Homo sapiens: one gene and its partners. The protein of the gene in region 7 interacts with the protein of the main gene of each other region in a pairwise test. Each region holds a gene or a part of one and is shown on either strand. Other genes may lie near its edges.

What was found.
Region 1: the proteins of NOTCH2NLA (region 7) and KRTAP26-1 interact in binary tests that used the Homo sapiens proteins (3 or more experiments, as listed by UniProt).
Region 2: the proteins of NOTCH2NLA (region 7) and PTPN23 interact in binary tests that used the Homo sapiens proteins (3 or more experiments, as listed by UniProt).
Region 3: the proteins of NOTCH2NLA (region 7) and CHCHD3 interact in binary tests that used the Homo sapiens proteins (3 or more experiments, as listed by UniProt).
Region 4: the proteins of NOTCH2NLA (region 7) and PTPMT1 interact in binary tests that used the Homo sapiens proteins (3 or more experiments, as listed by UniProt).
Region 5: the proteins of NOTCH2NLA (region 7) and SPG7 interact in binary tests that used the Homo sapiens proteins (3 or more experiments, as listed by UniProt).
Region 6: the proteins of NOTCH2NLA (region 7) and PCED1A interact in binary tests that used the Homo sapiens proteins (3 or more experiments, as listed by UniProt).

What each region holds. Positions count from the first base shown.
Region 1 is NC_000021.9:30,318,215-30,322,126, forward strand, and holds KRTAP26-1 (keratin-associated protein 26-1), read right to left. Parts: upstream 2,102-3,912; 5' UTR 1,822-2,101; coding exon 1,189-1,821; 3' UTR 910-1,188; downstream 1-909. UniProt on the Homo sapiens protein: In the hair cortex, hair keratin intermediate filaments are embedded in an interfilamentous matrix, consisting of hair keratin-associated proteins (KRTAP), which are essential for the formation of a rigid and resistant hair shaft through their extensive disulfide bond cross-linking with abundant cysteine residues of hair keratins.
Region 2 is NC_000003.12:47,393,804-47,398,311, forward strand, and holds part of PTPN23 (tyrosine-protein phosphatase non-receptor type 23), read left to right. Parts: intron 1-2,339; coding exon 2,340-2,414; intron 2,415-4,508. UniProt on the Homo sapiens protein: Plays a role in sorting of endocytic ubiquitinated cargos into multivesicular bodies (MVBs) via its interaction with the ESCRT-I complex (endosomal sorting complex required for transport I), and possibly also other ESCRT complexes.
Region 3 is NC_000007.14:132,973,670-132,978,177, reverse strand, and holds part of CHCHD3 (MICOS complex subunit MIC19), read left to right. Parts: intron 1-2,891; coding exon 2,892-3,009; intron 3,010-4,153; coding exon of another isoform or gene 4,154-4,201; exon of another isoform or gene 4,202-4,508. UniProt on the Homo sapiens protein: Component of the MICOS complex, a large protein complex of the mitochondrial inner membrane that plays crucial roles in the maintenance of crista junctions, inner membrane architecture, and formation of contact sites to the outer membrane.
Region 4 is NC_000011.10:47,570,822-47,574,511, forward strand, and holds the end of PTPMT1 (phosphatidylglycerophosphatase and protein-tyrosine phosphatase 1), read left to right. Parts: intron 1-649; coding exon 650-808; 3' UTR 809-2,108; downstream 2,109-3,690. Other genes in the region: KBTBD4 (kelch repeat and BTB domain-containing protein 4), read right to left, coding at 2,109-2,969. UniProt on the Homo sapiens protein: Lipid phosphatase which dephosphorylates phosphatidylglycerophosphate (PGP) to phosphatidylglycerol (PG).
Region 5 is NC_000016.10:89,549,303-89,553,810, reverse strand, and holds part of SPG7 (mitochondrial inner membrane m-AAA protease component paraplegin isoform 1 precursor), read right to left. Parts: intron 3,318-4,508; coding exon 3,202-3,317; intron 833-3,201; coding exon 676-832; intron 18-675; coding exon 1-17. UniProt on the Homo sapiens protein: Catalytic component of the m-AAA protease, a protease that plays a key role in proteostasis of inner mitochondrial membrane proteins, and which is essential for axonal and neuron development.
Region 6 is NC_000020.11:2,834,235-2,838,084, reverse strand, and holds the end of PCED1A (PC-esterase domain-containing protein 1A), read left to right. Parts: intron 1-1,770; coding exon 1,771-2,046; intron 2,047-2,375; coding exon 2,376-2,623; 3' UTR 2,624-2,771; downstream 2,772-3,850.
Region 7 is NC_000001.11:146,222,040-146,226,547, reverse strand, and holds part of NOTCH2NLA (notch homolog 2 N-terminal-like protein A), read left to right. Parts: intron 1-4,508.

The DNA of each region.
Region 1 (3,912 bases), on a different chromosome or scaffold from region 7:
TGCACAGTGATACAGTTTCTAGCTTTTCTAGCTATTCCAGTTCCTCAAAAAGGTAAATATTCAGGCTTTTAAAACTTTATTTCCTTTTAATTAATGAAATATATGCCCCCACACATTTTAGGTTGAGTGAGAGAAAAAATGTATCTTTAATTGTTACATGTCCCATAGCTTATAACTTCTGGCAAATTCTGTGATAGTTCAGGACTGTTTTGTTCACCTCAGTATCTTTTGTGCCTGGCATATAGTATGCAAGCAGTACCTTTGTTTCTGAATAAATCAAAAGATTAATTAATGAACTCAAGACTGTGTTTTTGTAAAAGCAAGTATGAGTTTTCAAAACAGAGCTGAAGAACATACCGCTCTCGATGATGACCTATGCAAAAGGATGGATGACTGTAAAAAGCATATGTTTGGGGACCCATGTGTAAGTCAGGATCGCAGGAGCTTAGTTTTATTATTTGCAATATTGAGCAAAAGAGCATGAAGCCAGAGAGGTATGGGGGAGAAAGACAGTGAGGGAACTAGGTGTCATGCTAAGAGGTTTGAATATTTATCTTATGGGAATAGATTATAGGAAGCCATCAAAGGCGTAAGCAGAAACTTGGTTAGGTTTGCAATTAGAAAGAACATTCTGGTGGAAGTGTGTTCATGGGGTAGAGAGATAAGAGACATCACTCCTAATTTTTCCTTTTCAAAACAGCTTTCCCAAGGACTTTTTGGGTCTCTCAAGTACATAGGGTCAGAAGTCTAAAAAGCAGCTTAAGGAATAAACCATCAAACAATCCCTCTACTGTCAGGTAAGAATATATGGTTGAGTATCACTTGTCCAGCTCAGTCATCTTGCAAGCAATTGACGTTGGTTATTTCTGTGTTGAAATTAAGTCATGAAACACAAAGCGCTGAACCAGATTCTTAATTTGGACTTAATCGCATTTATTATAGTGCAAAACAAATACATTCTTCCCAGACCAGAGCAACATTGAATAGCATTGTAAACTAATTTTTTTGATGTCAAGGAAAGATGAAAACAAGATAAAACATGCGAGAGAAGCAGCTTGCATTAGATCAGGCACAGTAAAACTAAGAAACATCAGTTGCTACTAGCAAAGAAGCAAAAGTCCATGGAGTTTGAATTTTTGTTGTGGATGCTCAGAGTGATTATTCACTGGAACAAAGAAGCTGCTGGTTTCACAGTCCAGAGCAAGATGGACGACACGTGCTGAACACATGGGTCAGAGGTTGGCAACCACTGAACAGAGGCCCCAGAGGTCTGAGGCTGCTGGACACAACGTGAAGACTTTGAGGACGATAGGCCAAGCAACTCGAGGGTTGGCATCCAGAAGTGAGGAGGTTTTGGGGCTGGCAACTCTTGGACAAGCAGAATTGGGGGCGATAGGCATTGGGCACACAGTCTCCTATGGGCTGGTAACTATTGAGCAGCGGCCTCAGTGGACGACAGCCGCTGGACACATACCTCTGTGGTCTACAGGATACTGGAAGGCAGGAACTGGAGAAGAAAGAAGCAGGAAGAAAACTGCTTCCTTGGCAAGGCCTGGGCACGTAGTAAGCAGTGGAAGAACCGCAAGAGGTTTCAAGATTGCCGGTCTCACAGTGGACCGGCTGGCAGCTGGTTGGTTCACCGCAGGTCTCTTGGCAGTTGTCTGTGACCCAGGTATGGTCTTGAGAGCTAGTGGGTAAGTAGAGGACATCTCCACAGCTCACGCTGGTAGGGCAGAGGTCGATGGAGGTGAGAGGAATATGGCGGGAGGTTCTGAGAGATCCTGAGTTGGAGTTTCCCGAGCAGTAGTTGGGGCAAGACATAGTGAGGTTGTGAGAGCAGGCTGAAGTTGAGGCAAAGAAGTGAGTGTCTGAAGTTTGTTCTGCCCTTCCTTAGCTTGACCCTTTATTTATCCCTAGAAGGTGGTGCTTCTGCGTGCAGACTCTTCCTCTTGTTGTATGAAGATGCATCAGAACTCTTTATTATAGCCAAGGAAGTGAGGCTTCCACCCTCCATAAAACTGGATGCTCCTTGCAATGCCATCCATTGATTACGTCTATCTATAAACCAATGCGACTGAGTTTTAATAGGATCTATCCTTCTTAAATTATCCAAACAAAACAGACACATTTTAAAGCCTATGTGCTTATTCCAATTATAACCACCATTGCACAAACATTCTTAAGATTCCTCTCTTAGAATTGTCTTTGAAAGTTGTAGCAACTTCTTTGAAACAGTGAGAACTTACATCTTTTTGAAGAAAAATTCTATTCTTCTTGGAAATTGCCAGAAGTGAGTAACTTGGAACAAGTATAAGAGAAAATGAAAATCCTTGCAAACTATATGACAGAAATATGGACAATTTCAATATGTTTTGCTTGGTTAGAATTTATTTTTCTAAGTTGTGATTTGCTTTATTTCAGAATTCTATTCAGACTTGACTTTCTACCAAAATATCTTTATTCAAAAATATGTGCTCATTTTAGTCATTTCAATAAATAAATAAGCTGAGTGAAGCTGAAACCTTGGCTTATGTTTAAGATATTCTTGAATATAGATAATGAAGTTGGGCCAAGTTAAAATTATGTATCCTACTGTGAACAAAAGCAGAGAAGTAGACCTCTTAAAGAAAGTCAGGCATCTTGACATTTTTCATGATTATTTCAAGGTTATGTATTGCATGGTTTCTCATATTCCAACTGAAAAAATATTGTTCTTGGTTAAAAAATACACTGATTATGACATGAATTTATTTTGCTTTCTACATTGGCCTTGATGTCAATTTCCAAAAAGGAGCTTCTAAACTGCTTTACATAGGGAAAAGCATCAGGATAAATTATTGTTTTCCTAAGTTTTAGTACTTTAAAGGTCATTTGAGAATATGTATTTCTGGTAAAATTGTTTTAAAAAATGTATGATTTTAGTTAGTTTCAACTATCCCTCTATATTTTTCTCATACTGACATACCCAGTGGCTCCAGTAGCTATTTTAATGGGATTTTAAATTATCTGCTGGCTCTAAGTTCCAATTCCTTTTGGCTAGTCAATTTAAATCATAACACTTTCTTCTATTTTGGTGTTTGAGGGACATACTTGTGCTTATCCAGTCTCCCTCTGTCCTGGAGGAGTGAAATCTCTGAAACAGAAAGTTGGTTTCTCAATGAGACAACACTAGACTATTTTACTACTGGGGGAGAAATATAAAAATAAAATGGTATAATCCCGGAGGTCCTGTACTAACATGTTGAATTTATCTCAGTATTTTAGGTCAGACGATTTGTACCTGATGTATTTGAGAAAGCCCCACTCACTCCAACCCCCAACCCCAGGCCCTCATCACCTAATACTGTTTGTATAACCGGATACTTTGTATACTTCGGACATCACCTAATACTCTGTGTATACAGCTGCTAGAGTCTTCTTGTAAAATCCTGGTTGCATCAGCTGAATGGCGTTAGTAATAGGTACAGTCATATTTAGCTGAATGCTTATGAAATTGTATGTTGATCCTTTTTATGTCTGCTCTTCTCTAATATAAACAAGAGCCCAACATCTGTATCATTAGTACATCAATACGCTTGTGTGTATGTGTGGATAGATGTATATACTACATGTTCTATGTATACATGGATGGTTTTCCATGAAGAGAAGGGGTGTGGAATAAGAGGAAACTGGCATTCATGGAATGCCTACTCTGAAGAACCTTGTGCTGTGGGTGCCCACATGTGCCATTCACTTTGTCCTCACAATTCTATACAGTAGATCTTACTATTTCAAGTACTCATACGAGAAAACTTGAGCTTTAGAAAGTTGCAGTAATAGGTATTACGAAAAACATCTGAAAAAAGGCTCCTTGACTCCCCAAACAGTTTTTCTCTATCCAATATGGCATTACATAGAGATGCATTGATACTA
Region 2 (4,508 bases), on a different chromosome or scaffold from region 7:
GTGTGCACACAGCTCACCACAGCCTCAACCTCCCAGGCTGATTCTCCCACCTCTCCCTCTTGAGTAGCTGGGACTACAGGCGTGGGCTACCATACCCAGCTAATTTTTTTTTTTTTTTTTAATTTGTAGAGATAGGGTCTCATGTTGCCCAGGCTGCTCTGGAACTCCTGGGCTCAACAGTCCTCTGACCTCAGCCACCCAAAGTGCTGGGATTACAGACTTGAGCCACCATATCCAACCTGTTTAATCATTTTTAATCTAGAATAGTCCACTGCTCAACCCCCTCCTTTTACATGACATTAATTTTTTGAAGAGAGTGGGTTCATTGTTGCCCCATTTTCTGAATTTTTCTGAGTGTTTCCTTTTCGTGTTCATCTGTCCTCTGCATTTCCTGTAAAAGCAATCATTTGCTGAGTATACAACACATCTGATAAGGCCCCTACCATTCCTTAATGCTTATTGTTTGAGGCTGGGGTCACTGGCATGACCCTGCCGTCGGCACACAGTATGTTGGAGGCATGTTTGGAATGTGAGCGGAAGAGCAGCTAATGTTCAAGGCAGTGACATTTCGGCTGAGTCTTAGTAGAGAAAGTAGGGACAATGTAGATAGGCATTGATACCTGAGAGCAGCAATTCCCAAGTACTATTGGCTGGTTGTCCCTGGGAGGTGCCAGAGGAAAATCCTTGAAGGTTGTGGGGAGCAGGTTGTTTATTTTTGTAGAGACGGGTCTTGCTCTTTTGCCCAGGCTGATCTCTAATTCCTGACCTGAAGTGATCCTCCCACCTTGGCCACCCAAAGTGTTGGGATTACACGCTTGAGCCACCTCACCCGGCCAGGAACAGGTTGTGCAGGGTCATAAACTCTGTGCCAAAATTAGATTTGGTCCTAGAGGCTTTGGGAAGCTACTGCACACATTCTTTTTAGATTATATATCATTTCCTATCATCTCACTGTCCTGAGATAAGCATGTTTTGGTCTATCTTCTCCCTAAGGGTGTGTGTGTGTTTCAGAAGGATTTAAAGCTGGAAGTGACCTCAGAGTTGTGCTAGAAATAACAATTCTGGCCACTTGGTAAGGGACGGATTTGAAGGGGTGGGTTGTCCAGGACAGAGGTGGCATGGGGAGAGAGAAAAGAGCTTATGGACACAGGGACTTTCAGGAGCTGAAACCAACAGAAGAACCAGGGTTAGACTCAGAGGTTTGGGAAAGGGTTGCTTGATGCTGTAATTAGCTCAGCTGTCGCCTCCCTGCCATCTGTTCCTCTTCTCCCTTTGCTCACCAGGCAGACAGAAGCTGTCACCCAGGCTTCCCGGTTCCCATGTGGCTGATTCCTTAGCTATGCATCCTGGGTCCTGGGAAGGGACCTCAGGAAAGATGGGTGGGCCACACACATGGTGTGAGTGAGTGTGCTCCCAGACAGAGCAGGCTGCCTCATCTCAGCCTTTCTCAGCCACCTCTCTCTACCTTGCAAACCTTGGTCATGGCCTTAAGGAGCCCTGTGAGGTGGGTATCAGTGCTCATAGTGTTTGTGGCGTGAGTGGATCTGGCCTCCCAGATTGCTAGCCAAGACACCAGCAGCAAGTACTGCAACAGGGACAGTTGCAGTTGCCTTAGTCTGGTGATCTGAGTTGAACAGGGGGCCCTTTGGGCTAAGCCTGTGCCTCCAGGTGGGTGTGTATGCTCACTGTCCAAGACAGTCTGCTCTGGAGGTGGTGAGTGCCACTGTGGACAGGCACTCCAGTGCTCTCTCTGATGTGGGTAGTGACCTCCCCTTCTCACCTTCTCCCACCTGGGCCATTCTCCTCACACAGCTGCAAGTCTTTCCTCACAGATGAGGACACTGCAGATCACATGTTTCTATGCTGTCCTTTCCCAGGCCAGGAGAATGGGTTGGTGAGAGAGGCTTTCTGTTCCCACTCTTGTTTGGTGCCTCTTGCCTGCAGTTGCTATCAGCTTAGGGTTATGGTAGTCACCCCACAACGCAGCAGGGCCCAATCTTCTAGGGAGGCTTGAGTTCGTGACCCTTTCTGGAATCCTTATTAGGACCCCATTTCAGTCCGCTGAGTTCCTTGGCTTCCTGAGCTGGCAGACTCCTGGACTTTGTAGAGAGACTGCAGCGTTAGGAGGACCTGCCAGAGTGTTGGTGCAGGGTCACGGCTCTCGTGGTCAGCATTTTGGTGCTGCCTGTTCAGGAGGCGAAGTTCCTGGTGGTCCAGGAGACACGCTTATGGTTGTAGGTCTGCACTTAATCCTGAGTCCTGGTTGGTGCTTGCCCAGGACTCAGAGGGCAAGGCGGGGGTCTTCTCTGCCACTGGCTTATGTTCTTCTCTCTCTGTAGTTTGTCCTGAAGAATTATGGAGAGAACCCAGAAGCCTACAATGAAGAACTGAAGAAGCTGGAGTTGCTCAGACAGGTAGGAGGATAGTATTATCTTTTTATGCATGGGTAGACAGGATTGGTTTGATAGGGAGATAAAGAAACTGCCTAGGCTGGGCATGGTGGCTCAACGCCTATAATCCCACCACTTTGGGAGGCCGAGGTGGGCAGATCATTTGAGGTCAGGAGTTTGAGACCAGCCTGGCCAACATGGTGAAACCCCATCTCTACTAAAAATACAAAAATTAGGCAGGTGTGGTGTCATGTGCCTGTAGTTCCGGCTACTCAGGAGTCTGAAGCAGGATAATTGCTTCAACCCAGGAGGTGGAGGTTGCAGTGAGCTGAGATCATGCCACTGCACTCCAGCCTGGGTGATAGAGCGAGACTCCATCTCAAAAACAACAAAAAAGAAACCACCTGGCCCTTTCTAGCTTTTGATGTAAAGTGAAAGACAGCTGGATGTGTGACTCATGCCTATGATCCCAGCACTTTGGGAGGCCAAGGCAGGAGGATTGGTTCCTCCTGGAGTTCAGGCCCAGGAGTTTGAGACCAGCCTCAACATAGTGAGGCCCTGTCTCTATAGAAAACAAAAAAAATTAGCCAGGCATGATGGTGCACAGCTATGTCCCCAGCTACGCAGGAGTCTGAGGAGGGAAGATCACTTGAGCCCAGGAGGTTGGGACTGCAGTGAGCCAACCATGTTCATACCACTGTACTCCAGCCTGAGTGACAAAGTGAGACCCTGACTGTTTAGAAAACAAAACAAAAGTGAAAGATGTGTGACTCTTCCTTTCACTTAAACACTTAAGAGGCCATTGTAGGTTATTAATTGGCCTAATTTCAATATTATTGTGTCTCAGGGAATAGGGAGCCTGAGGAGAGGGAGAGAGGCAGGAAAAGGCCAGCCAGTGAAGCAGTGAGAACACACGGAACATTTATAAGTCTGCCGTCTTCTATGGGTGCAATTCATGGCACCAAAAACAATTATAATAGTAACATCAAAGATCACTGATCACTGATCACCATAACAGATATATAATAAAAAAGTTTGAAATATTGTGAGAATTACTAAAATGTGACACAGAGTCATGAAATGAGCACATGCTGCTGGAAAAATGGTGCCGACAGGCCTGTGTGATGCAGAATTGTCACAAACCTTCAGTCTGTAAAAAACACAGCACCTGTGAAGTGCAATAAAATGAGGTATGCTGTATTTTTTTCCTGATTATTGTATGTACTATTGGATAACAACATGTTTTCCCTTATGTTTTTGTTAGAAGGGTAAGAGTCTGCACTGGCATGGCTGAACTTGAGTACCAGTAATGTAGATACATGCCATAGAAATCAGTAGCTGTTAGTGTTTTCTTGTCTATCATGGACCACATACCAATCCTTGCAATAACCCAGCAGTACTAGCAACTATTGCCAGTATACTACCCATCAGTAAATTTTTGGATACATTTTCATTTAGTCTACTGAGTGAAGATATTTTCTTTTTTCTTTTTCTGAGACCTAGTCTTACTCTGTCACCCAGGCTGGAGTGCAATGGCGCGATCTCAGCTCACTGCAACCTCTACCTCCCAGGTTCAAGTGATTCTCCTGTCTCAGCCTCCTAAGTAGCTGGGACTACAGGCGCCCACCACCACGCCCGGCTAATTTTTTGTATTTTTAGTAGAGACAGGATTTCAACATGTTGGCCAGGCTGGTCTCGACCTCCTGACCTCAGGTAATCCACCTGTCTCGGCTTCCCAAATTGCTGGGATTACAGGTGTGAGCCACCGCGCCCCGCCTGGTGAAGATATTTTCTATGTCAGTTATTCAAAATTAGTACAAGGCCAGGTGCAGTGGCTCACGCCTGTAATGCTATCACTTTGGGAGGCTGAGGCAGGTGGATCACTTGAAATCAGGAGTTCGAGACCAGCCTGGCCAACATGGCGAAACCCCCTCTCTACGAAAAATACAAAAATTAGTCGGGCATGGTAGCAGCGCATGCCTGTAATCCCAGCTACTAGGGAGGCTAAGGCAGGAAAATTACTTGAACCCAGGAGGTGGAGGTTGCAGTGAGCCAAGATCGCACCCCTGCATCCAGCCTGGGCAACAGAGTGAGACTGTCTCAAAAAAGAAAAGCTAG
Region 3 (4,508 bases), on a different chromosome or scaffold from region 7:
TATTACTGCTACTTACCTAACATTTATTGAGTGTATATTATGTTATGGGCATTGTGCTGAGTGCCTTGTTTATATAGAACGCTGTAAGGTAGGTATTACACTATTTCATTTTACCCATGAGAATAACAGGACTCACCGGAGATTAAATAAAGTACTTATTCAGATAGGAAGTTTAGAGCCTTGATTTGGACCCAGAGTTTGCATATCTGTACCAGTCATGGCAAGCTAAATATGTTTATTTTTATTATCACATTGAAGGCTTTTGTGCTCATGTTTTGCTTCTTTTTCATTAACTTGCCAAAATCCTTATGATCCTGTATTTCTTAAAGTTGAACCATGTAGAACTCCATATGTAATTAAAATCTAAGCCATACATAAGTAAACTAAAATGGAAAAAAAAAGTAGTAATTTTTAAACAGTACTTTAAAATTAGATACACCAAATGTGGTAGATGTGATAATTCAGTTGAACAGAATTCATTTTATGTTCATGAACTAATAATAGAATTTGAATAAACATTTTATATATGTTTGTAAAGTGCCTAGCACAGTGCTTAGTAGTTGATCCATAAATGATAGTAATTTTATTATTTTATTTTAGTTTCCACCTCACTGGTAAAAATAGGTAATGCTTTTTTACTTAGGGGTAAGATGTCCATACAAATGCGTTAAATACAGTATTGTAATCTGATATGATAACCTCAGCAGTTATTTGCACAATATTCTCATGGGGAGCACTTCATTTTTGATGTTACTTTCATTTACCTCCAGGATTTATTTGAGTACAAGTGTATTTTGGTAATTAAGGGCTGTAGTCTTAAACTTTAGCATGCATCAGAATTCTAGAGGGCTTATGAAAAGACAGTTTGCTAGGCACTATCCCTAGAGTTTCTGATTCAGCAAGTGTGGGATGGAATCAGAGAAGCTGCATTTCTAACAGACTCCCAGCTGATGCTACTGCAGCTGGTTTGTGGACTGTAGTTTTAGAACTGCTGTTCTAGGAAGTGGTGTGACTTCTAATTATTGCTGTTCTCTTACAATTACACATATCCAGTGGTGTTAATGTGTTGATATCATTGATGTTGCTGAATTTATTGTATGGTCCTTGTGAAATAATTTAGAGAAATTTGGTTTGTATGAGTGTCATTGTGCTTATTGCTTAGGAAGTTTCCCAAAGGTTACTTTTGCATTAGAGAATTTCGAAATACAGATTTTAACTTGTTTCTAGTCCTCTTTTTTTTTATTTAAGACACAAAACTACACAGCTTTGATTTTTAGGGGAAAAGGATGATAACTTTGGAATATATCTCACAAGGTGACTTTTTTTTTTCTGTTGTAGTTGATTTCTGAGAATTCCAGAGTATCAGGATGATGTAGCAATTTAAAAATAGTAACACAAAATTTTATCTCTAGTTTTTTTCAAAAATCTTTTTAAAACTAAAATTTGATAAGCTAGTACTGAGTAGAATTTGGTGCTCATCATTCACACGTATAAAGTAGATTTCACTCAGAATTTCACTTACACCAACATAACAATTTTACTTTTCCTTTTTAAAGCATAGCTATACCTTCAGGGATATGATGGTATAGTAGGGTTATTCTCTCAAAGAAGAAAAGGCAGTCAGAAAATCTTTGTTCATGAGATTAGACTGAAATCTTCAGTGATTCAGTGATTACTGAATGCCTCTATGTGCCAGGCACTATGGCAAAAATCAGTGCCAAAGTAATTTATCTTTATCATGTACAATGAGGGGTTTTAGTGGGTTGTAACTTAATATGATCTAATTGTGTGATGAGGCTACTGAGAAATCTAATGCAATCTTATGCTTCATTAATAGAATTAGTATTGTGTACAGATCTAGGGAAGTAAGATTCTCCTGTCTTAGTTTGCTAGAGCATGTCTGGAGGGTTAGGTTTAGTTTGGAGCTAACAGATCGATTGGAGTCATTCCAGAAGTGAGGAGCCCTGCAGTTGAAAGGCGTGGTCATATTTGCATATGAGGATTGTTGGAAAATAGGGGTAATATACTGGGAGGAAAGATGTCCTTATTAGTTCCATAATGTCTGGCTTCTCTGCTGTGCTGTAACATCCACAATGACAGTGACCTGTCCATCTTGTTTATCGCTGTGTCCTCAATGCCTAGCACAGTGCCTGGTGTGCATTCAGTAAATGGACGAGTTGAGTAAGTTTGGAGAAAGAGACGATGGTTACCTTCAAATATTTGTCATGTAGATGGCTTTTTTTTTTTTTTTTAAACGGAGTCTCATTCGCCCAGGCTAGAATGCAGTGGCATGATCTCAGCTCACTGCGTCCTCTACCTCCCAGGCTCAAGCAGTTCTCCTGCCTCAGCCTCCCAGGTAGCTGGGATTACAGGAATGTATCACCACGCCCAGCGAAGTTTTGTATTTTTAGTAGAGACGGGGTTTCACCATGTTGGCCAGGCTGGTCTTGAACTCCTGACCTCAAGTGGTCCACTTGCCTTGGTCTCCCAAAGTGCTGGGATTACAGGTGTGAGCTGCCACCACGCCTGGCCTAGATGGTTTGTTAATTACTTAAATTTTCAGAGGCCAAATGGAAGCACCAGGGATGGAATTTTTTTGGTGGGCAGATTTTAATTTTACATAAGAAGAACTTTGTAAAACTTAGTTATATTTGGCAGCCAAATTAATAAGCTTCTTCATGTATTTGAATTTGGTTATTTGAAATGCTTGAGTGGAGGCTGCATGGGGATTTACCTCTATACCTGCTTTTTTGATAGATTATGGGCCAAGATGATTTCAGCTGTTGACCTTTTTGGCTATGTGTTTCTATTTTTAAATTATTTCATTTGATAGAAAATAATGTCAACTAATAAAATATTTTTTCTAACTTAGACAATTCTTGTCATTTTAGACTAAAGCAAGCCAAAGAGCTGGACCGAGAGAGGGCTGCTGCCAATGAGCAGTTAACCAGAGCCATCCTTCGGGAGAGGATATGTAGCGAGGAGGAACGCGCTAAGGCAAAGCACCTGGTGAGTATTAAAAATGTAGGAGAAATTTTCTTGCCTACAAGGAAATCTCTGATGTTTGGGAAGAGCTAAGTACTCTGTGCCAGCTTTTAGTGTTGATAATATTATTCATGTTCTCTTTGCTCAGATTTTGATTTTTGCCTTTTATAAGTAGCTTACAGTTTAGGTTTAACCATCAAGGACTTTAAAGGCAGGTAACTCTGGAAGTATTGAAGACCAACATGCAGACATGTGTACATGTTTCACACCTGAAGGATTGTTGTCTGCTTTTTTTTCTTTTTCTTTCCTTTTTTTTTTTGAGACGGAGTCTTGCTCTGTCGCCTAGGCTAGAGTGCAGTGGTGCGATCTCAGCTCACTGCAACCTCCGCCTCCGGGGTTCAAGTGATTCTCCAGCCTCAGCCTCCCGAGTAGCTGAGATTATAGGCACCTGCCATCGTGCCCAGCTAATTTTTGTATTTATAGTAGAGACGGGGTTTCACTATCTTGGCCAGGCTGGTCTTGAACTCCTGACCATGTGATCCACCCGCCTCGGCTTCCCAAACTGCTGGGATTACAGGTGTGAGCCACCGAGCCCGGCCTGTCTTCTTTTTTTGTCCTTTGCCTTTGGTTTTATTGTCTTTGAAACCTCAGGGGTCAGCAATGTAGGCTTCTTTCTCTCGTGGCTGGCAACTACCAGATGTTAGTCTGGAAGACTCTGGCAAAGGTGAGTAAGGTTTGATCAATCACTGCCTGGGGTTTAGGGAAGAGAAAATGTAGAGCCAGGGCCTTGGGGAACAGTCTTTTCTAAGATAATTTTTTTAAAAAGAAAATATTTTTTAATCTTTTAAAAGATTACATAGACATGTTTTTGTTGTTGTCTTTAAAAGTATTACTAACAGACAGAAGAAGGTTTAAAAGACACCCATCAATCTGTCTTTCTGATATAACCATGGTTTACACCAGTGTGTGTTTTCCTCGAGATTATTTTTTTCTAGGCTTTTTAACATATTGAAACATTTAGATAATGCTATAGATGGTGTTAAGCCTCATGAACATTTTCCTATGTCACTGAACATTTTTCTGAAATGTAGTTTTTAATGGCTGAATAATGTTCTGCCTTTTGTATTCAACATAATTTATTAAGCAATTTCTTATTGTTATTTGATAGATAAAAGTGGAGCTGCTCTGGGTGAAACCTGGAGTGTTGACTGCTTAGCCTCCACTTCGGCCTTCCTAGAAACCCAGATGTTACTCCTCGGAACCTTTAGTCCTCATTGGAGCACAGTTGGGAACTCACTGGACAGGGAAAATGGGACCATGGAATGGAGAACTTTGAACTGAAGAGTGAGGGGGATTTTCCTAGTTCACTAGGCAATTGGGAAACACTAAAACTTTCTAAGAAGAAGGCTCATTTCTAGTCTCTCCCATTCTTTACCTTAGTCACTTCTCTGAAAGACCAACCCATGACCAGCTGCAAACAGAGAACATGAAAGGAAGTCCATGCGTAATGAATCAGTTTCTTC
Region 4 (3,690 bases), on a different chromosome or scaffold from region 7:
GAATAGCTAAGTCTGGCCTTGTGTTACTGTGGACTAGTGTGTATATAGTTGAGTAATATTAAAATTTTGGTCATAAGGGCTCTGCTGGAAGCAGGGTCTCAGGAGGGTATTTTGCACCAAGTGAGAATTGAACTAGCAAGTTAGAAATCTGTATTTTCTTGGTTCTGTTGAGTTCTAAACCAATGAGTATCCTTAGGACATGTTAACCCTCCTATTTAAATTATGAGTTACTTGTTTTTCTAGCCATGGTGACAAGTTGCATAAAAACATCTATTGCATACTCGTTCCTAGAAATTCTTGTAACCAAAAGCCCAGCTCGGAGAGGACGTGGAGTAGGCTGAGGCAGTCTTGAACTTAGGATCTCAGCTTCCCATGTGCAACTTCCTTTTTCTAGGATTTGGCAGAGCAAGAATTGGGTAGAAAGACTGACTTTCCACCTGACCTGTTGCATAGTATTGTGAGACTGGCTGACTGCAGTGGTTACAGTACTCTCCCATTTATAATACAAGCAGCATGATTTTTAATGCCTGCAAAATAGAGTTTCCAAAGAAATGAAATCTCAGAGTCCTTTAGCACCTGCTCATGGGTCAAGGGCACCTTGACACCTGCTTCTTTCTTTCTCTGCTGATTTCCCAACCCTGTACTTCAGGTGCACAAATGGAGTCCAGAGGAGGCTGTAAGAGCCATCGCCAAGATCCGGTCATACATCCACATCAGGCCTGGCCAGCTGGATGTTCTTAAAGAGTTCCACAAGCAGATTACTGCACGGGCAACAAAGGATGGGACTTTTGTCATTTCAAAGACATGATGTATGGGGATTAGAAAGAACTCAAGACACTCCTGCTTGATACAGAACAAAAAGAGCTTAACAGGACCAACAGGGCTTAAGCCCAGACTTGACGTAACAGAAATGTGCCAATAGGTAATAGGTAATTTTTCTTTCTCTGACTTGTTTTGTTTTCTTGAAATAACACTGTTGTGTGGCTAGAAAGGAAAAGATTTAGTGTGGCTTGTATTCATGGGATACAGGACAGGGATGGGGCTATCATCTTTTCTTGAATAGGGCTAAAGAAGTATTTTAACAAAAATCTATTATGTACCTAATATTGTGCCTAATAATATTTAGCACCACAACTCAAAAAACATTTAGCACTTGAAAAAAGGAGACTCACCTCTGGCTCTTTGCCACTGTCAGAATCTGAATCTCACTGGCCCTGTGGAGTAGGGATCCTATCTGGAGAAGTGGGAGCATGGGCTGCAGTCAGGACTGCTGCAGACTGAGCCATGTGATGGTACGTAATGAGTTCCCCTGAGGGAATGAAACACCCTCACCCCTTCAAAGTCACCCCTTTGGAATTCAACACAGACACACATATCCCTTCAAAAACTTTTATTTGTATCAACAGTTCCTAGCTCTTGACTTAGCTTAGAGCTTTTAAAAGAGCAGACACCTTATATATTTGAGATTGAAAAAGTTTCTGCTATTAATCAGAAATAATCATTTCTATTTTCTGGCTTACCCCTTGGAATAAGCCAAAAATAAAACCAAAGTTACATTTCCTGACAGATGGATAAGAAAACAATAGAAGGAACATCCTGAATTCTAGAGTTGACTCTTGCTGGTGAAGTACACCTTCAGCTTAGTCCATTCTCCTAAGTAAAGCCTGAAGGAAAACTCTTAACACCTAATTCTTTGTGGAAAAATGATCAACTAGCCATTTCACAGGCTATAGAACAAAAGTACAATTGGGCATCTTTCCTTATGTCCTGGGATCAGGGGTGCTTACATTTAACATTGATCAGGTAAAGAGGAGAGGCTGTGCCTAAGGTCTGAGAAAAGGCTTGCTCTAAGCAAGCTGTGGTGAGGCACAGGATGACTAGGGAATGGCAGAGAACAGGCTGGCCTACTGTCAGTTCAAGCAACCAGCTGAGCAGCAGCAGTCTAAAAAGCCCCAAACAGAACACCTCCATGGATTCAGGGAAGGGCTGAGGCACTGCCTTTCTAGTATGTGCCAAAAAAAACATAACTCTGAATTGGGGCCCAGGGGACTTTGAGTTTGTATGGGGAGGGAAAAGGAGTGAGCAGTTCTCCTCCCCTCCCCACAGCCTTAGGCCAACACAAACTGCAAATTGGTAAGCAGCACCTTAATACCTCTTGTGACAGTTACGGCTGAAGTGGCAGGGTCAAGCTTGTAGGTGTTGGCATCCCCCTTTTTATATCGGTCCCGGAAGACATAGATGCTCCCGTTACAGCTGGCAATCTTCCAGAGGGATGGGGCAGAGCTCCAGGCCTCAGGAAGGCAAAGCCGGGTGAAGCTGTCTAGCAAGGGATTGTAGCACACCAGGGAGTCCCCTTCAGCCACGATGAACACCAGATCTTTATGCACAGCTGCGTGCATGCGGCCTGCAAAGGGCAGCACATAGGGCTTCACATGGCATTTGTCTGTCTCTGTGTCAAAGCACTGGATGAGTCGGGAAGGTTTGGTAAAGAAGTCCAGATCATTCTCCTCCCCCCCTAGTAAGTAGATGATCCCGTTGAGGTTGGCACCAGCAGCCCCTGACACAGCCACCTCTAGCTGAGTTGTCTCTGTCCACACATTATCACCTACGCGATAATAAATGACTGCGTTGGAGAGGGTATCTTGCAGTGTCTTGCCACCCAGTGAATATATGGCATCTTTCCCGGGCACAGACACCAGGGTGTGCTGGAGCCGGTCCCGAGGCAAAGGAGCACACCACTCCCAGTCAACGGTGGCATTGTTGCACTTCCACATGCGCCGTGGGATGGACCCTCCCACCACATACAAGTCTCCACCATGCTTGCAGGCCGCAGTGATCTGGTGGCACAAACTGTTTTGGCCACTTACACTGATGGAGTCATCTTCTGCACAGTGCAAGGACACAGCCAACGAGTGGGTACGAGATGACTCTTTCCCAATCAGGTAAATGTGCACATTCTCCCCAATTTCCTATTGGCAAAATTAAAATTATATGACAGCTGTTAAATTCTAGGCTAAGGCTCAGCTAAGACACATATCCTTAAGATCCTGGCCCTCACACTTGTTCCTAGCTTTATCATACTACTCTCTAATTACTGTATGGCATCCAACTCTCCTCTAGTCACTTTCTTTGAGGCAATTTATGCCGGGCGGAGAATCTGTTGTATTCATCCTTGTAGCTTTTAAAAAACTCTCATAAGCTAGTGCTTCAGACAAAGGGTGATTAAGATTGTTAACTTGATGACAGTAGTTCTCAAGGAACTTTGAAAGCTCATAGATTGGTGGTACTGGGGTTACAAAGACATCCTTCTCCCCAGCTCATATCAACTTCAAGCCAGAGATAACTTATTCAAAAATAAATAAATAAATACAAAAAATTAAAAAAACAAGAGATGGCCGGGCACAGTGGCTCACACCTGTCATCTCAGCACTTTGGGAGGCCGAGGTGGGCAGATCACCTAAGCTCAAGAGTTCGAGACCAGCCTGACCAATATGGTGAAACCCTGTCTCTACTAAAAATACAAAAATTAGCCGGGCGTGGTGGTATGCACCTGTAGTCCCAGCTACTCGGGAGGCTGAGACAGAAGAATTGCTTGAATTTGAGAGGCGGAGGTTGCAGTGAGCTGAGATCATGCCATTGCACTCCAGCCTGGGAGACGGAGTAAGACTCTGTCTCAAAAACAAACAAACA
Region 5 (4,508 bases), on a different chromosome or scaffold from region 7:
CAGGTCGTCCTGTGCCCCTGGAGGGCGGGGTCGAGACAGAGGCATCCTCAGCACTGCAGGCGCAGAGCAGTGCTGGGCCCCAGGTGTCCCGGTCAGAGCACTGAGGCAGCACCACCTCCATCCCCTTCCTCCCGAGGACCCACCGTGAAGCTGGACAGTGAGGACGTTGGCACCTCACCACTGTTCCTTAAGAGAGTCTTAAAACTTTCCGAAATGCTCTTTTATTTGGAAATCTAGAACCCGGGGGCATACTGGAGCTCACTGCATGGCAGTTCTCAAGCACAAGCCCAGGCCTATGCGAGGCAAACCCATGGACCTGGAGCCCAGGGGCCCCCGGGACCCTCCTTCAGCTCTCTGGATATCCCAGTGCAGTAATGGCTTCAGAACAATGAAGCCGCTTCAATTTTATTCCGTTTCCTGTAGCCATTACCAACAATTAACCAATTAAATGTGTCTAGAGTTGGCATATAGGTTAAGTTTTTGTCCAATTAAATTATCTAAGAAGTCTTGCTTAGCTCCAACTCTCTTATGACCACAACTTATCTTTTACAAAATACTTAATAAATTCAAAGCTACGTCTACACCAGATTCACCCCATGGCATGCACTGGAACAGAAGGAGTCATGCAGGGAAAAGCGCTCTGAAACCTCCAGGGCCCGCGCCGCTGCTCCTCACCAGAAGTGACCTCGTTGAAGGACAGTGCTTCCGAGGCCCGTCCTCCCAGGGCCATGCACATCCGCTCAAACAGCTGCTCCTTGGTGAAGAGGTGCTGGTCTCTGGGGAGCATCTGAGCAAAGCCCAGGGCGGCGTTTGTCCGAGGGGTTATGGAGACCTGGCACAAGGTCAAGATGACCCAGGTCAGTAGGCAGGATGCGTGGGCTTTGAGGAGGAAGGTGTGGGACTAAGAGGTCTCCGTCATTAAAGCGTCTCAAAGCAGGAAGGCAAATGTGCAGCATCCTCTACAACAACAGGGGATCCTAACACTCTAGATGGCCAGCCCAGAGACAGCAGCGTTCCCACCACAGGTGCCTGTTCACACACTGCCGGGAAGTGTCTTCTCATACATGACTAGACAGGCAGGGAGTCAAGAAGACAAGGCCCGTAGAAGACAGCTGAGAGGCGAAGGACAAGTTTCACCCCCGATGGCCGCTGCGCTGACCCCTCACACCAGCGACAGCTACTGAGGGTTCAGAGCAATGAGAACCCCACGATGCTGAGGCAGCAGAGGCTGTCCTCACCTCTGCTGCTCCCCCACAGCCCCACATCAGGTGTGCAAGGAGGTGGCGCGGGGCAACGAGCTAACTCGACAACACGGAACCGCTGAGTGGGAGACGGACGGAGACGGGGCAGGGGCTGGCCCAGCTGCTGCTTCTGAGAATTGTGGCGGCGAGATGGCCACATCCAAGTGCTCTGAGAATCCCGAGGACGCTTAATTTAAAATCTAAAACTAGGCTGGGCGGGGTCGCTCACATCTGTGATCTCGGTACTTTGGGAGTTAGAGGTGGGCAGATTGCATGAGCCCAGGAGTTCGAGACTAGCCTGGGCAACATAACGAGACCCCTTCGCTACAAAAAATATAAAAATCACTCGAGCCACCAGTGGGGCATGCCTGTAGTCCCAGCTATGCAGGAGGCTGAGGTAGGAGGATCGTGTGAGCCCGGAAGGTCGAGGCTGCAGTGAGCTGTGATCGCACCACTGGACTCCGGTCTGGGCAACAGAGAGAGAGACCCTGTCTCAAAACAAAAAGAAGCTCTAAATAACGGCTGCAGTGATGATTGCATTAATGACCAAAACCATAACAGCCAATTCACAACCTTTTCCTGGCAGGACACTGAGCCTTGGGAAAGAGACTCACTTTTTCATTGTGACTATCTGACTTTTGCCCATCAAATACAGTAAAAATTCTTTTTTTTTCCCTTTGAGAGACAGTCTTGCTCTGTCACCCAGGCTGGAGTACAGTGGCACAGTCTTGGCTCACTGCAGACTCTGCCTCCCGGGTTTAAGCGATTCTTGTGCCTCTACCTCTCAAGTGGCTAGGGTTACAGGTACGCACCACCACGCCCAGCTAATTCTTTTGTATTTTTGGTAGAGATGGGGTTTCACCAGGTTGGCCAGGCTGGTCTCGAACTCCTGACCTCAAGTGATCTGCCCGCCTTGGCCTCCCAAAGTCCCTGCATTAATTTTGATTTCTTGACATACCGTGTTAAAACGTCGTGTTCACTGCTGAGTTTTTTAGTGTCCCATAAATGGGACCCCCAGCTGAGTGTCCACTCGCCCCACAGTGGGCCTAGCTCTGGTCCCATGACTGTGGTGCACATCGCCAAGGAGCAGCACGGATCTGGTCCCCAAACGCTGCCTCAGCCCTGCTGAGACCCTGGGATGGGCAGGACGCTCTCTGATTAACACGCAACTTTGCTACAACTCACACCTGAGAACCAATCACGGAGACCAGCACTGACAAACCAAGCTGGCAACTGCTACAGCGTATGCATTGTTTGCAGTGAACCCTGAGGTAGGAACACAGCACTGCCGCCTTCTCAGGTGAGCCTCAAACCTGCACGGCTTCCTGGGGCTCCACTGTAAAGACGGCACCTGCGTTCCGAGTAGAGACCTCCTCTTGGCAGCACTCGGACTCCCGGTGGTGGAGCCACGTCTTAGAGAAGCTGTAACATCACCATTTGGTAAGAATAAATGTCCATCGAGTTCACAGCTGCCTACAAGAGTAGTTTTTTGTTTGTTTGTTTGAAGTAGAGACAGTTTTGCCCTGTTGGCCAGGCTGGTCTTGAACTCCTGACCTCAGGTGATCCACCATGCCCAGCCTAGAATAGTATTTTTTAAATGTACACTCAACTCACTTCTTTCCAATGTTAGGAGTCATTTGGGGTGGACAGGCAAAGGCAGCGAAACCCCATTGCATGGTGTAACCTTCCACGAGTCACCCCAGTAGCAGCACCATGCTCCGATGTGACACAGCCCACTCCTGCCTCCCACGTCCGAGTTCCCGCCCATCAGTCGCCACCCACCCTGCTCCATGGATCATGACAGTGGCAGGCTTTCCTCTCACATGACCTACAGACACAGGCGGGACTCCCCAGTCAGCTACAGACACAGGCGGGACTCCCCAGTCAGCTACAGACACAGGCGGGACTCCCCACCCACCTTTGGCCAAGGCCCGTGGAGCCGGCACCTGCCAAGACCCACCTTCATCACGGCCTCCGTGTGCTCCAGCATCCAGCCCACCAAGGCGTGGCCCGACTCATGAAACGCAACCACTTTCTGTTCTTCCTTGGACAGGATCTTGCTCTTTTTGGCAGTCCCTGAAAGAATGCCGGGGTATGAGTTGGGCGCGGTGGCTCACGCCTGTAATCCCAGCGCTGTGGGAGGCCAAGGCGGGCGGATGACCTGAGGACAGGAGTTCGAGACCAGCCCGACCAATATGGTGAAACCCCGTCCCTACTAAAAATAGAAAAATTAGCTAGGTGTGATGGCGGGCGCCTGCAGTCCCAGCTACTTGGGAGGCTGAGGCAAGAGAATCACTTGAACCTGAGAGACGGAGGTTACAGTAGGGCAAGATCATGCCACTGCACTCCAGGCTGGGCGACAGAGCAAGACTCCGTCTCAAAAAACAAACAAAAAAGAATGACGGGGGGGTGAGCTGAGACCCCGGCCTCTCCCTGGCTGGGCCCTGCTCCTGCCCCGTGTGGTCAAAGCAAGCCTCTCTCTGCACATCTGCCTCTTGGAGCTGCAGCTGCGGCTCTGGACACCCCAACTCAAAACGACACTCTTCAGGTCAAAGGGCTGTTGAAGGAGGTCGTGATTTCTTCTTTTATAAATGTTGCAATCATCGAAATAGCTCCTGCTGCTTTTAGGAACAAGTGCAACCCTCTGAGGAGTGTCTCCTCCTGCCCCATGGTTGGGGGGGTGCCACAGGGTCGGGGCAAGGGTCACAGAACAGCAGCTTTTGACTTTCTCCCTGGCAGGATGGGCAGAGGCCTCCTCTGAGTTACGGGCCTCCTGCTTACTTTCCCTCTCCCCTCAGACCTGGAGGCGCAGCTCCCATCCCCATCACTTTCTGGATCCTTATGGCTTCTACTCACCCCTTCAGAAGCTTTTTGCCTCAGGGACAAGGCTTTTTTTCTGTCAGTGACAGGGTCTCACTCTGTTGCCCAGGCTGGAGGGCAGTGGTGCGATCACGGCTCACTGTTGCTTCAACCTCCCAGGTTCAAGCAATCCTCCTGCTGCAGCCTCCTGAGTAGCTGAGACCAGAGGTGTGCTCCACCACCATGCCTGGCTAATACTCTTTATTCTTTTCTTTTAAGAGATGGGGTCTTGCTGTATTGCCCAGGCTGGTCTCAAACTCCTGGCCTCAAGCAACCCTCCTGCCTCAGCCCCCAAAGTGCTGGGATTACAGGCATGAGCCACAGTGCCCAGCCAGGGACAAATGTTTGCATTAAATCTCCCCTGTTCAGCTTACTGGTGAGGCTTCATTTCCTGTCTCAGATTTTCCA
Region 6 (3,850 bases), on a different chromosome or scaffold from region 7:
TGAGGAGGGTTAGATCATCGGAGCAATATTCTTGTCCAAGTTCCAGTTTTCTACAGTCTGGCTGTGTAGTCATTTCTGTGTGCTTGAAGGAGCTTGTACAAGTATTGACCACATAAGGCAGCATGTTGCAAGGGTCCTACCCAACAGATTAACAGGAAAGAAATGGGGCATGGGTGTGAGGAGTGGAAAGACAGGGAGGAAGGGCCATCCAGGCAGTGTGGCAGAAGCAAAGAAGCCCACAGCTGGGGGGTGGGGGTACAGTCAACTGGCAGGGTGTGGAACAGGGATGTTGCATCGGGAAGGCCAGCCTTATGGACTTGGGCTCAATGGACAGTGTTCCATAGGCTTCTTAGTTCAGCCTCAGAGTCCCACTGTGACTGGTGCAGCTTGGTGTAGCTCTCCTCGGGCCCCATCTCTGGGCCTTTGGTGGAGGCTTCTGAGGGCCCCACTCCCCCTTGTTTTGAGGCACTGCTCCCCATCACATCTCAACTGTAACACTCTGCTGCAGAACCTCTGTTTCCATGTCAACACCCTAGTCCCTGCATGCACACAAAGAGGGCACCATGGCTGATTGTCTCCATGGCTGCTTCTCCCCTGCATCGTGTCCTTAAAGGGCAAGTTTCCTGCTGCACTTGTTGACGACTCACCCCTTTCAGCCCCAGTGTCTAGCACAATTTCCCTGTACACAGTATCAACAGAATTGTATTTGTTGAATGGGAGGCACGAGTCATGTTAGAAGGCCGATTATGGCAGCACAAGAGGATGTGGGGGCACAGAGAGTCCAGGAATATCATAGAGACAGACCTGTAACACTTGGTAGCCAGGAGTTGGAGCATCAGGGAGGTGAATACAGATTTTGGTTAAACATCCCCATTTTCTTGTTTAGATGTAATAATTGATCCCCAGCAAATGATGGGATGCCCTGAAGGTTGTAAGGCTAGTTTTGATGGCTTAGGCCTTTGAAATCCAATTTGGAGCTACAGAAGTTAGGGCCATGAAAAGGGAGAGTTGATTTGGGGTGGAAGGATGAGTTGGTGAGTTTGGTCACAGCAGATTGATTTGAGGTTCTTTGGAAATACAGAGTAGATTTGCAGTCATTGGTACCCAGCAGAGAGATTAAAACTGAGGGCACAGTGGCAGCTGTGAGGGAGACAGAACGATGCTCATGCTTTGGATTGGCAGGAAAGAGGGGCTATGGCGGAAACAAAAGGAGATGAGGGCAGGGGCACTTTTAGGAAGGACTGAGGCTGCTGGCAGTGTCACATGACTGTTGAGAAGAAGGGAATTTGTTAGCAAGTGGTTACATTTAGTAGGAAAAGTGTTGAGGGCATGGGTTTGGATTAAAGGAGGGAGTGAGCAATTGAGGAGGAAGTGGAAATTGGGCAAAACATTCCTTTTGGAAGTTTGGATGGTAAAAGGAAGTTGTTGGGGAAGGGAATAACAGGATCTTTATGTTTGGCTTATTTACTGGTCTATGGGGAGGAGGTGGGCGAGGAAAAAGCTAGATACAAGACCTGGGCAAACAAAGAAGGCTCTGGAGGGAAGTGTAGGTTAGAACAAAGGTAAGTCTGAGAGGTAAGAGAGAAGGAACACACTTTGGGCTTGGCCTGAAATGAGAGGGAATGAGGAAAACTGGGTAGAGGGCAAGGATGCTCCAGCCTGGTGGCTCTGCTCTCCAAGAGGAAGGAATAGAGCTTTAGAAGTGTGGATGGCCAGAGTTCAGGGCAGCCTGGCTCCCAAGCCTACCTAAAACAACCATCCCATTCCTAGACCCGTGGATTGAGGACTGGGCAGAGATGAATCATCCATTCCAGGGAAGCCATAGGCAGACCCCAGACTTCGGGGAGCACCTGGCCTTGCTCCCACCCCCACCTTCTTCTTTGCCTCCTCCCATGCCTTTTCCCTACCCGCTTCCTCAGCCCTCGCCACCTCCCCTCTTCCCACCCCTGCCCCAGGATACCCCTTTTTTCCCAGGCCAGCCCTTCCCACCCCATGAATTCTTCAACTATAATCCAGTGGAGGACTTCTCGATGCCACCCCACTTAGGTAGGTGCTTCTGCAGCTCCCCCACCCTCTTGTACCTCCCCTTACCCAGCCTCCTATGCCTAGGTGAGCTGAGAGGAGTTGGGTAGCTCCTTGTGCCCCTAGCACTGGGTTTGGTCACAGCAGTCCCTGAGTCTGAAACATCATCTGTAGGTTCATTAATCAGCTCACTGGTTGTCACTGTTTCACCGTCTGAAGGTAGGGGAAGGACTATCCCTTTTTTGTAGATAGGGAAACAGAGAAGCTCACCTGGAGGACAAGAGTTGCTTCAAGGCAGAGCTGCACTCACTCTGGCCAGAAGCCTGCTCTTATAATGACTGGTTCTTTTGTAGGATGTGGCCCTGGAGTGAACTTTGTGCCTGGCCCTCTGCCACCTCCAATCCCTGGCCCTAATCCCCATGGTCAGCACTGGGGCCCAGTGGTCCACCGGGGGATGCCACGCTATGTTCCTAACAGCCCCTACCATGTGCGGAGAATGGGGGGGCCCTGCAGGCAGCGGCTCAGACACTCAGAGAGACTGATCCACACATACAAACTGGACAGACGGCCTCCTGCCCATTCGGGGACATGGCCTGGGTAGACTGGATCTTGGGCTGGGACTGGATGTGCCAATGGCCCTTCAGGGCCTGCCTGGCACCTCAGGTACTGGGCTAGGGTGTCTGCTATGCCTGGTATTGTTCTTGTCCATTGCTGTCACCAATAAAGGCATGGAAGAACAGAGTGACAAATTCCTGTGTGCAGTGGGTATCCCAAACCATGATCTTAAGATTGGGGGAGGTTGCCTCTGGGCTTTGTCCAACGTGGGGCCTTTGACCCCACACTATTTAGAAATCATTGAATGTGCCCTCCTGTCTCATACTTAATTCTACCCTCACCAGAACATGTGTATTTAACAGAGATCCTGGAGGGGTCCCCTATTGTCAGCACCTTGGGGAAAAATCAAGGGCTAAGTGGAAATTGTTAATATTTTGTCTGGAATTTTGGGTCTGGCTAGTTCTTACCTATACCTCCCGGTCTCATGCATTCATGTGTATATTCGTTATTCATCTACCTCCAAAGATACGAAGATGCATAAACTTATCTTGCATAATTCTTGGCACATAGTGGACACACAGTAAGTGGTTGGAATGAAACTAGAAGCTCCCAAACCCAAGTGGGAGACGTATTCGAAACTTCTTCTTTTTTTTATTTTTGAGATGGAGTCTCACTCAGGCTGGAGTTCACTCACTGCAACCTCTGTCTCCCGGGTTCAAGCAATTCTCCTGCCTCAGCCTCCCAAGTAGCTGTGACTACAGGCGCACACCACCACACCTAGCTAGTTTTTGTATTTTTAGTAGAGAAGAGATTTCACCATGTTGGCCAGGATGAGGTAGATCTCTTGACCTCGTGATGCGCCCACCTCAGCCTCCCAAAGCGCTGGGATTACAGGGGTGAGCCACTGCGCCCGGCCTCTATTCGAAACTTCTAACTTGATTGATGAGATGTGCAGTGGAAGGAAAGAGAACACAGACCAACCGCTTTGGTGCTGGTGGTGAGACAAAAAAGGAGCTGAGGGAGACAAAATCCAAGGTGGGTGCCAGGATAGGGGTGGTGGTAGAGACACTGTTTTAAGCTCCATGCAGAAGTTGAAAGCAGGGAGGTATAGGATTTCAGCTTTAACAGGTAGTCTTGATCCTAGGTTCATGACTGTACAAAGAACGTCAGTAGTGGAGTGTGAACTAAAATGTGGGGTGGTGTGAGGGATGGAGCATGGCAGTGGACTGATAAGTGATGTGAGGGCAGAAATATAAGGTAACATGAAGACCCC
Region 7 (4,508 bases):
TGAATCCTCCTAATTTATTATTGTGTTTTGCTAAGGTACCAATTACAGCACACCCTTCTAAACTTTTGAGTGTTCCTGTGTTTGGCTTGTGGCCAATTGTTAATTTAAACATCACGGAGTTTCTAAGGCAAGGAGATGTTAGCAGTATGTCTGATTGTCTAAACAGCTATCCAGGACCATACTCTTGCTCCTTGTTTTCTTTTGCTTTGCAATGGGAAGTGACTCCCTGATTTTGCTGCCTGCTAGATAATTTCTCAGCTGAATTCTTCTCTTGCTTAAACAAAATCGGAGTAATTTTCTTTCAGATGGTGATGAAATTTAACCTAAAACTATTTTTCCTTTCACTTTCTTATTATTCCTTTTTTTTTGGTGTGGTGGAGAGGAGGAGGAGAGTGATTCCTAGTCTCTCTTATTTTTCTGAATGTTTAGATTTAAAAAATATTTACCCATAACTTCTTGGGATCTCTCTGCTCCATTCCCACCCTACTGCCTCTCCTGTAGGCTTCTATGACATAGAGAAGCAACTTTTGGTTCACCTGGATTGTAGTTGCTGACTTCAGGACCTTTAGAGAATGTTTAAATTCAGTGGGATATGCTTGGATGGTTCAGAGCAGCCTTACAATACATTTTAAAAATATCACACCCACAGAAATTCTATTTTGCCCACAAAATTTGCATTGATCTAGTTCCCACTCTGTGTTGCCATTCCTAGTGATCCTCCTCCCTACCTCTCCCATTATGGTAGAAAAAAACTCTGTGTCCTGGCTACATCAAAATCTGTTGGGGTGGATCTTGGACTCAGCACCCAGGGATTCTGATAAGGTAAGTTTGAGAATCCATATTTTTTCAAGGTTTACAGGTGATTCTGACAAGTAACTTGGTTGCAACCCACTGATTAAGTACATTTTTTTTTTACCTTCAGGTGTGTGTATGAGGTCTTTCTAAATTTAAGAAATTTCCATAACAAATGTAACCTTAGTCATTCCAGTGTTTAACACTTCTGACTCAAGAATTTTAAAATTGCTAACGTAAGAGATATAGAATATAATGTCATTTCTTCTGTTTATCTGGGTGCAGTATGTCTGCATTGACCCTTTAGAAGGGCTTCATATATTTAGATGATATAATAAATTCTCTACCTCTCCTTTTCCCTTTTCTTCTGTTATCTCTTTTTCCTTAAATGTCATTCATACATGTTGTTTTTTGACCCTTTATCTATATACGTCTGCAATGATTTTAGAGTAAAAAACTGCAAGGCGTGATTTGAATAAGGATATAAGAAATTTTACATCATTTTCTTTATATTGTGTTCACAGTCCATAGTTACATGCTTCCTTTCTTGATGTCTCAGTTCGAATGCCTAAATTTGAACTATTAATTTTCCTTCCACCCTTTCCTGATTTTCCTGTTTTTGTTTCCCCCCCTTTCTCTGCAAATGACTTGAAACCAAAAGGTCTTCTTTTCTTTCTTTGTCAGTCTACCATATGTGTAGTATTTTGGACAGATCACTGAACTAGGAGCCAGAAGACCAGAATTCTTCTCCAGGTCTGTTATTAATTGGTTTGGTGACCTTGTAGGAGAGCCACTGTTTTGGTCCTCCATTTTCTGATGTTCATTGTTCATGGTCACAGAGCCAATTAGAGTTGAGACTAGAATTCCTTTCTTCTGGTGTCCAGTGCCTCATTCACTGTCCACATTGCTTCCATCTCGTGTACAAATGCGCTTATGTGCACAAAAACTCTTATAACATCCTCAAGTGCTTATTGTTAATGCGTACATGAGGAAGGAATCGTGTATTTTCATTTATGTGTTTATTCTAATGCCCATACCCTACCCCTGTACCTGGCATGATGCCTTGGTATCTAATAGGCACACAATAAATACTTGTTCAGTCGAACAATTATTTTTAGCCACTTTCTTATTTTGGACAACTGTGGTACTCCTAGACATTTTAAAAATAGTATTTGCAGGAGTCATGCTTACCTTACATTTGGGGAAAAACCAAATTTTTCCCTTCCCCAGATGTTTCATTTAAACTTGTAATTTTGAATTTCTTTGTGTGTGGGGTTTCTTTCTTTCTTTTTCTGATCACTTCTGCAATTTATAAAGGTCACTTTGACTTTGGAATCTCACTTCAAAGGCACTGCCATCCACCCCCTGCCTCTCATTCAAGTTTGCTTCCACTGCTTCCTGTATTACTGTATTACTAGGCCAGCAATTTCTGTTATTTTGTCCAGAATAGCCACACCTTATTGTAATTTCATCATTTTGGGGACTAGTCATTTTTGGAATACTATTTTTAAAATTAGAGTTAACTAAGTTTATATTTATTTTGATAATTTTTTTTGAGATTTTTTTCATTGAGTTGGATATTGCAAACTTGTACTGGATTGAGAGAATATGTACATTTAGTAAAGTATATTTGCTTTTTTTTTTTTGAACCAAGAGAGTCCCCTGAACACCCTACTGACAAAAACTAAAGGTGAAATATGATGAATAAATATTTGAGAGAATCACATGGTGTTGAGTTGTCTCTGCCACATGATTTTGATCCTTGAGGGCCAGGTCTGTGCTACACACATTTCTTCTCTGTACTACAGAACTTGTCTGGCATGTGCCCCAAATTCAGAGTCAACTGAGCGGCAGGTCTTAGTCACAGCATCTGTGACTCCTGCTTTCCCACCTTTAGAACATTCTATAGGAGAGGCTGATGGTGAGTTGGAGTGTGTTTCTATGTTCTTTTTTCCTTTGAAGAGATAGGATCAGTTGAAAGCTGACCCCACCCACAGACTTTTTTTGCTATCTCTTTTAATTAATTAAGGAGTGGCTGAAATTTTCCTCTTTGTTGACTTATGCATTGGCGGGAACTTTAAAATTCATCTAGTCTTTCTGTCCATCCCATGCTGGATCTGATGTTTACAACATTCTAGTCAAGAGGTACCATATTTTCTCTCTTCTTGAACATCTCTTGTGGTAGACAGCTCTCCACAGCAGTTTATTCCATCTTTGGCCAGCTCTAATTCTTAGAAAGATCTTCTTATATTCAGCTGTAATCCATCTCCTCATGACTTGTCCTCATTGACATCTACTCAGAAATTTGTCTCAGAGTCCTGAGACCTGTGCAGGTGATAGGGACCCAAAGAGATGCTTGTCTGTAGACTTTACTGAGCTGACACCCAGCTCTCCATAAAAGGAGTCAAACCCAGTGAGGAGCATGTCTGGGGTGATTGCTCAGGTAAAGCATCTTAGCCCTACTTGTTTCATACCTCCCTGCACAGGTGGGCACTGGTGGGAGAATAACATTTATCAAGCAGTGTTTCCCTAACCTCTCTTATGATAAGAATAGCTCAGGTGTTCTCATGGAGATTCTGATTCAGTGCATCTGGAATGTCATCTGGGAATTTGTGTGTTCAAGAAATAGCCAGGTGATTCTTACATTAGGAAAGTTTTAGAATCACTGCAGAGTGAATCTGGGAAATCAAAGTGTTTGTTTTTGTTTGTTTGTTTTTTGAGAGTATTAGAGACAGGTTGCTTTGGCTAGATCCTGTGGTCATTTTTCCCCCTTGGAAATGCCTCCTACTTGCTGGCCTCACTTAGTACAGAGAAGAAAGCTGCTATGGTATAAGGTTAGTAAAGTTGTTTGTTTTGTCTTAAAAGAAATTTGCGAAATCCAGCATTTTCGGACTTCTGTTTGTGTTGTATGACTTTGTTGTAAGCCTCCTTATTCCTCCATTAGAATGTTACCTGAGATGTTAGAATGCATAGGAGTTCCACAGCCTTTTTGGTGTCCACTAAAGAATTCTGTCCTCAGCCGTTGCAAATGGTGCTTCCTTTGAGGATTTCTGCTTCATTAGCTCATGAACACATATTTGGTGTCGGCAGTTTCCCTCAGATGTGTTAGTGTGGAGAGATATAAAGGTCACTCATTTCTGGTGGTCCTGCTTTTGGGGTTTCTGGGCTGCTGCAGCAAATGAAATAAGGAAAGGAAAATAAAGGAGGAATCTAGGGCTTCTTGAGCAGAACAAAACAATCTGCAAGAAGGGGCACAGGATTGCTCCTCTCACAAAGACACTTGATAATACTGTCCTTGATAGGAAGAAGGAAGTGGCTTCAGATCTGAAAGGATATGCTCATAGGCTTGAGACGGGACAAACTGCATCACTGGTAGTGGTAGGAGGTTTGCCGTAGATCTGTTTTTTCTCCTGTCTCTCTTTTTTGAGGAGAATATTATCTGTATGGCAGAACATACATTGTGGTCTTAAAAAGGAGAGTAAAGCCAAGAAAGGGGGATGATAAAGCCATAGCTTGGAATAAGAAAAGCAAAGGAATTATTGTATTAATTTGTGTATGTAAATACATAGGTTTCCATGTAATTCACTGGTAGGATCACTAGCCCTTGGCACTAACATTTGCTATCTTTGTAGCTCTGCTGTCTTAGTGGTGTATTGGGGGAGCATTGTGGTGTGTTGTCACACTTAATTTGTGTGCTTCCCTTGGCATCATGTGGT